2 linked regions of the Homo sapiens genome follow. The protein of the gene in region 2 purifies or fractionates together with the protein of the main gene of each other region. This does not show direct contact. Each region holds a gene or a part of one and is shown on either strand. Other genes may lie near its edges.

Region 1 (3,816 bases), on a different chromosome or scaffold from region 2:
CCCAGGTGGAGTCAGGGCAGGGCCTGTCACCAGGGAGCTGGGAGCAGAGATGGGAGCAGTCTGAGCTGCTCCTCCGTCATCCAAGGGGCTCCTCCTCCCATTTGGGGAACGTTGTGGGCTTGTTTCAAAGCCTTGGATGTTTCTTGCAGCTAATGGCATAGGTAAAAGAAAACAAAGGGGTAACAGAAACAGGGGTGCCATGTGTTGGTGACAAAGAAAAGCAACTTGACCTTGAGGACCCTCCTTCTTCCCCCTTGGTGAAGTCCTTTCCATGACATAGGGCTCTGGGGCTGACGAAGGCCCCTCTCCACGTTTCTCAGGTCAGCCCCGAGGTCAGCCAAGAGAAATCAGAAAAACAGGCAGAAGAGAGTCTATAGAGATAAACTGGGAGGGTTTAGGAGAAAAGTTGGGGATTTGCTTGTGCTGTTGGACACAGGCTGGGAATAAAACTTTTTTTCTGGCTCATCTCTGAAAGCCAGATAGACTCTACCAGAAAACATACTGCCAGTGCTCCAGGGATCCACTTACCAGAGACTGTGATCATCCTGACTGTGGTCCTGTTGCGGCCAGTGGCTGAGTTAGTGGTGTGGCAGGCATAGGATCCGCTGTTCTTTGTAGTGATGTTGGGGATAAAGAGCTTTTGTGTGTATTGCTGGAATGTGCCATTGACAGACCAAGAATACTGTGAGGGTGGATTAGAGGCCGCATGGCAGGAGAGGTTGAGATTTACCCCTGCATGGTAATAGGTGTCTGAAGGGGAAATGGTGGGGGCATCTGGGCCATCTAGAGCAAAAGAATAAAGTCACAGGTGATGTCATCAGAGGGAAGGGGAAGCTCCTGGTCTGTGGAAGAGCCACAGTGTCCCTCTGAGCCAAGTCACAAACCTGAGCCAAGTCCCAACCAACCCCAACCAAACCCCCGCTGTTTCTACTGAGACAGAGTCCGAGACATTTACCTGTTTCTCCCATCAGAAGATGTGGACTCCAAGTCTCCCATGACAGGAGCACCCCCTCCCCTCTTATTCTTGGTCAAGGCTAGGCCTACCCATGTTTGCCTGGGGCAGAAAGTCATGACGAGCTGGGTTTCTAGGGGTGGGTGGGGAATCTGCATTTTTGGAGCTGAGAGGGACTGAGAGGCCTGGCCTCTGGCTGCGTGGATTTGGGCTGGTGGCCTGGGCCACAGAGGAACAGAAGATACTCACAGAGGACATTCAGGGTGACTGGGTCACTGAAGTTTGCACTCGCTGGGTTCTGTATTTCACATTCATAGGGTCCTACGTCATTCCTTGTGACACTGAGTAGAGTGAGGGTCCTGTTGCCATTGGACAGCTGCAGCCTGGGACTGACCGGGAGACTCTGACCATTTACCCACCACAGGTAGGTTGTGTTCTGAGTCTCAGGTTCACAGGTGAAGGCCACAGCATCCTTGTCCTCCACGGGGTTGGAGTTGTTGCTGGAGATGGAGGGCTTGGGAGTCTCCGCTGTGCAGAAAACAGAGAGAAGATTGCCCTGTGTGGCACCTTTGATTCCTCCACAGGCAAATTTCAATTAGAGTTGGCATCTCCCACCTCTCAGCCTACTCGAGTCCTTAAAAGCCCACGGTGGGTGTGTGTGTCACAAGACAGATGCACAATGATCGGGGCTCAGAGACCATGAGGCCGCCTTCTCTGTGTGGGAGAAACACAGACTTTCTCAAATGTGAATTGGGCAGCAGCGCTGGGTTGTGGACAGACCCAGGACTGGGAGTTACAGATCCTGGTGCCTCTTCTGGTCCCTCCCTGACCGGCTGCCTGCCTGGCCTACCTAGGGGTCCTCACCTGGAACATGTAGGTGCTGGGTCCCTTCCAGCTTCACAGTCCTACTTTGCCCTTCGAGGTGTGTTTTTGAGGGTTCTGTTTCCAAGAACATTCTAGAGATGGGAGATGATGGGACATGCCACTATCCTTAATTCCTGACTGGGTGTTTCAACAGAAATAACACAGGGGAGGCCGGGGCAAGCCTGGAGGTCGGTTCCGTCGTCAGGCAGTGGAGCCACAAGGTGGGGCAGTTTTTCCCAGGTGTTTCATCGTGACTTACTTGAGTCAGTGACCTCTAAAGATAGAGCAGAGTCCAAGGAATGATCTAGAAGGAGTGAAGGGGACAGGCAAGAACAGGTGGCTTTGGAGCAGAACCTTGTTTCCTTTCCTTGGTTTTTAATGTCCCTTCTTTCCCTGCGGGGGGCAGATGAGGAGCTGTGGATCCTCCCATAAATACATGTGGACATTTGCAAATGCAAACTGACGGGTGGGGAGGGGGAGCCTGAAGTGCTGGAAATTTGGCCCTCATGGACCGTGGGTGTTTGACAGTTATGAGAGAGAAATTTGGGAAGAAGTTTTGCAAATATTTTCTCCTACTGGACATTATACAGAGTGAAATAAGCCACTGACAGGACAGATACTGTAGGATTCCACTTACATGAGGTTCCTAGGGTAGTCACACTCATGGAATCACGTAGTAGAATGGTGGTTGCTATGGGCTGGGAGTGGGGGGAATGGAGAGTTGTTCATGGGTCTGCAGTTTCAGTTACACAGGATGAGGAGGTTCTAGAGATCTGCTGTACAGCTTTGTGCCTATAGCTCATATACAGTGAGTATTTCTTATGCATAAGGCTTAGGGCCAAAAGTGTTTTGAATTTCTAACTTTTATAAATTTTTGAACATTTGCAGTATACTTACTGGTTTAGCATCTCAAATCTGAAAATCCCAAATCCAAAATGCTCCAGTGAGCATTTCTTTTGAGAATCACGTTAGTGGCCAAAAAATGTGGAATTTTGGAGCATTTCAGATTTGGGATTTTTGATGGTCAATGTGTAACTCTAATTTGCATTTTAAAATTTGTCAGGAGTTTAGATATTATGTTTTGACTATAGTCAAAAACAAAATTGGAGGAAACATGAATTTTTTTCCATAAGTAGAAATTGCTATTAATTGTCCACAGATCTAAAATCAATTGGTGGAAGGAGTATTTCTCTTGATAACAAAATAAGGTTTAGGCGTCCTGTGAATTCCAGCAGGATCACATTATGCTCAAAGGAAGATCCTGAAGTTCGCTTGAAATTAGCAACTCCCAGGTAGAGGGAGGCACGTGAGTCCTGTTAAGAGGACAGAACCGGTCAGAGAGGAAGTCTTAGGTGTGTCAATTCCATAAAGGGAGGAACAATGCCAAATTAGGAGAAGCGATGTGTGTTATGTTAGTAAATTTAGAAAGCTTCCTGCCCCTAATTCCTATGCAGAGTTAGGCAAAATTGGGAGGAGCCCAAAACAGGTATGCGCAATGCTTTCTTCATTTTCTCTTGACCTCGGGAGACACAAGTAGAATTGGATTAGGTTTTTGCGAATTGGACAGAGTCTAAGTGAGACGCCAGTGGCTCATGCGTCTCCCCACCTGAAGGACCCCATCTTATCACAATGGTGCCATCATGAGGACACAGATGTGTGTGGAACAGGCAGTAAGCCCATCAGACAGCACCTGCCTGGCCATCCAGGATCTAGTCTCTAAAGAGGTTTTGCATCATTCATTCTCTCATTCATTCCCTCTCCATGAGAGAACGATCGAGTGTGTGTCACATGTTGGGCCTGTCCTGGTGCAGGGTGTGAGTGGGGAGAGAAAGCAAAGTCCTCTCTTTTGTCCTCCCATGGGAGTGACAGCAACACATCAGGAAACAGGATTTCAGGTTCAGTGAGGGGGGTTAGGATCTTAGAGGGAGCCTGGACATTCCTCGCACTGGCTCTGACAGTTGGGGCAGGTGATTTAGTTCTGGAGTACGAATGAATCAGTT
Region 2 (3,816 bases):
GTTCCCTCTCTCAGCTGGAGGCCAGTGGAGCCAGGATGAGGCTGAGGCCATGAGTAATGGATGGAACCATGCAGGCAGGTCTGTAAGGACAGGGGAGCCACGTTAGAGGCAGTGGGGAGTGGGAGCCTTCATCCACCGCCCTGCCCCACAGTCTAGGGGCACTGACCTGGGGCACAACATCCCCTGCAGGAGGGTGGGCAGCAGTGGCTGGAAGTTTCTCTTGATTTTGGGATGGACAACAGAAAAAAACAAAAAGCCAGTCACAGGGACCCAGAGAGAAGGAAGGGAGATGTGGGCAGGAGACAGACACAGAGCATGTGTATGGGCAAGGAAGACGCAGGGAGACTATGTGTGAGCTTCAGAACTGCAGAGACAAAACGCCACGGAGGAAGGAGAGGAATCACAGTGAGAGATCGCAGGGCCAGGGCCAGGGCAGGAAACCCAGGCCCGGACAGAGGAGCGTGTCACAGATAGAGACAAAGATTCCTGGAGAGAGACACACACACCGACTCAGGAGGAGGGAGGTGAGAGCGAGGGTGCCCCGGGGAAGCAAGGAGGGACACAAGGACAGGGAGGAGGCCTGGGGCCCCTGGGCTGCTGCCGCCCGCCTGGACCCCGTGGGGCTCACTCAGAGGGCCTGTGCCCGCTGCCCCCCCCCCGCGGTGGGCCGGGCCAGCCCGGGCGCTCAGGGGGCCGGGGGCTCCTTGGCCCCATACAGCTCGGCCAGGGTGCGGAAGAGCGGACCCCAGTCGTCCAGCGGCTCCGCGGGGCCGGGGGCGCCGCCGGCTTCGCTGCCGGAGCCCAGGGAGCTGAGGGAGCCGCAAGAGGAGCCGCGGCCCTCGTAGCCGTACACCTGCACCGAGTCGTACGGGGGTACGCCGGGGTCCTCGTCCGCCTCGCGGAGCCGCAGCGCCAGGAGCTGCGCCACGTCGGCGGGGCCGGGGGGTCTGGGCTGGCGCGACACCCGGGCCCGGGGCAACACGTCTCGGCGCGCGGGAGGGCCGGGCGCCGGGGGGGCCGCCCCGTCCGGGTTCTGCAAGGCCGTGATGTCGAAGGCCTCGGTGTCCTCCTCGCCGCCGCCCTCGTCGTCGTAGGTGATGATGTTCTCTCGGACGTCCTCCTCCTCCAGTACCATCAGTGCTTCTTGCTTCTGCCGCCGCAGGGCCACGAAGAGCACCACCAGGGCTGCGCGAGAGGCGCGCACACAGGCCCTGAGCCAGCAGGGCCGGGAGCGGGCGGCCTGTCTCCATGTGAAAGGCTGACCCATCAGGTGACAGAAGCCCTGTGCTTAGGGGCTGACATCTAGCAAACCTTGCATTGAATCCTGACTTCAGCCCTTACTCGCTATGTGACCATGGGAAGTTGCTAGACTTCTCTGAAGCCTCAATTTGCCCCTTAGATTACTTATGTGGAGAATAGGGAAAATATATTTACTTCTAAGGGTTGTTGACATAATAAAATGAAATATCACAAGTGACGTGCCCAGCACTATACTTGGCACAGAGTAGGGGCTCAGTAAACCATTGTTATGGCTTGTCATTGTCATTATGGATTGGCAGGTCACGGATAGAGGCCAGAGCTTTTCTCTTGGATGCATCAGGTGGTGGGAAAATCCAGGTATGAGGGTCGTTCAAGCCCTAAGGTGGATTTCCCTGTGTCCAGAGGCCTGGTTCTTCTCCACACCCCTGCAGGCCCAGATCGCACAGCTATGTACCACTGTGGCCTGACTCACCAAGCAGGGCACCCACACAGGTGATGATGGCAAGCAGGGCGCCGGTGCTGAGCCCAGCAGCTGAGAGGTGAGCCTCAGGCCAGCAGGATGCCACAGAGCCGTCAGGCTGGCAGCGGCACACACTAACAGTCACTGTGGCAGTGCTGCTCAGCGCCGGCTGCCCCCAGTCCCACAGTTCTATGGGAACCAAGTAGGGGGCATGGCGGGGTGGAGCAGGGCGGGAGGGCAGCAGCAGGCTGGCGGAGCCATCTGTGGGAGAGGGAAGGTGTTGAGGTATCTTCTGGGACACCTTCCAGGTAGGGTTGGTCCAGCCCATAGAGCCAGCTTCCCATAGAGCCAGCCCCCCATAGAGCCAGCCCATAGGTCCAGCCCATAGAGCCAGCTTCCCATAGAGCCAGCCCATAGGTCCAGCCCATAGAGCCAGCTTCCCATGGGGAAGGTTTACAAAGAGCCAACGAATGAGTACAAGTCCACACCCATCTTCTGTTGGGTAGAAGGCCGAGGCAGGTGGGGCAGGGGTCAGGCAGGCTGGGCTAGGGGTGGAGGAGGAGGAGAAGGGGACAGAGGCAGGTATGGACATGGCTGTAGGAGGCCACCTACCTCGGTTGTCCTGGACAGTAAAGTTGGCATCAGGGCCCAGAGGACCTTGAAAGGAGACATGGCTACTGTTGCCAACTTCATCTCTGTCCAGGGCCCGGATGACCTGAATCAGCTGGGAGGAAGAAGAGAGAGGCCTTGTATGGAGTGGGCTGCTGGAGGCCTGGACGTCCCAACCCCTCTGCCTCAGTTGCTCACCTGGCCAGGAGCTGCAGAGTCACACACAAAAGTATCGTAGGGCTCAGCCAGCTGGGGAGCATTGTCATTCTCATCCAGGGTCTGGATGGCCACTTGCACGCGCGAGGCCTGTGCAGAACTGTCTGAAGGCAGAACACCAAAACATACACGCCACACACACACCACACAGTTTACACGTAACATATGTGGTGCATGGGCATGGATGCCACATGAAGCATATAGCATGCACAAGAAACACATGAAATATGCATGTAATGTACAGGTAGAAAACAATGTTGCAGAATGAATGGAACAATACCAAGTGCATACAATATTCATGTAGTACCCAAGATATGTGCGATACACAATAGACATTCAACAGGAATGCCGCACCCATGATACACATATACAATAACCCACATGCAGGGCACATGCAGCATAAATGAAAGACAGAGGGAAGGTGCATACGAGTTGCATGCAGACAACAGCCATGAATATACAAAACACATTCATACCATATATCCAATGTACACTCAACATTTAAAACAAATGCAATGTACATGAAGCAAATGTTTGATATGCATAGTGAATGTGGTGCCACATCCCCCGACAACACCCAGTGCCCATAGAATGCATTTTCATGCATAGAGGCCATGCACAGCACCAGTGGGGTGGACAGACACATATACACACCACACACACACACACACACACACACACACACACACACACATCCCATCAGAGGTCTGGGAGGCTGTAGTACAGCAGTGAGCATCACTTATCTTGGGTAGAAAGGTGCTGCATGATCTACAGGGTGCAGAGCCCAGGCCAGCCTGGGTACCACAGCCAGACACAGGCCCCATCTTTACCCATCCCTTCATCAGGTGACTCCCTACCACTACCCTACCTTGCTTCTCACTGCCAGTGCCTTCCAAGAGAGAATGCAAAGTGTGTCTCCCTGTCACCTCTCTTAGGCCAGGTCTCCCAATTCCTTTAGTCTTTCCCCTAGGCAGAGGGATAGCTGACTAGCCTTGGGGAAAGGGGCTGAGGATGCAGCATGGGCAGGGGAGGCTGAGTGGATCGCCTGGCTAAAAGGATTGGGATACCCCAGAGACAGGATGGGGAGGAGGTCTACTTCTTCCCTGCGGTAAGGGCCCAGCACTGCTAGGTGATGTCTGGGTGCGGGTAGGAGCAGGATTTGGCAGGAGAATGAGAAGACAGTGACTAGAAACGCACACACACACAAAGCTATGTATATATAAGCAGCCAAAAACATACTGTGTGTACACGGACACACACGGCCATCCACA

Evidence for each region.
Region 1: the proteins of CDH24 (region 2) and CEACAM8 purify together in Homo sapiens (co-immunoprecipitation; one large-scale study listed by IntAct). This does not show direct contact.

Annotation. Positions count from the first base shown.
Region 1 is NC_000019.10:42,588,256-42,592,071, forward strand, and holds part of CEACAM8 (cell adhesion molecule CEACAM8 precursor), read right to left. Parts: intron 1,481-3,816; coding exon 1,202-1,480; intron 784-1,201; coding exon 529-783; intron 150-528; coding exon of another isoform or gene 1-149. UniProt on the Homo sapiens protein: Cell surface glycoprotein that plays a role in cell adhesion in a calcium-independent manner. Mediates heterophilic cell adhesion with other carcinoembryonic antigen-related cell adhesion molecules, such as CEACAM6.
Region 2 is NC_000014.9:23,047,295-23,051,110, forward strand, and holds part of CDH24 (cadherin-24), read right to left. Parts: intron 2,650-3,816; coding exon 2,528-2,649; intron 2,445-2,527; coding exon 2,333-2,444; intron 1,982-2,332; coding exon 1,733-1,981; intron 1,186-1,732; coding exon 686-1,185; 3' UTR 167-685; intron 81-166; 3' UTR 1-80. UniProt on the Homo sapiens protein: Cadherins are calcium-dependent cell adhesion proteins. They preferentially interact with themselves in a homophilic manner in connecting cells; cadherins may thus contribute to the sorting of heterogeneous cell types.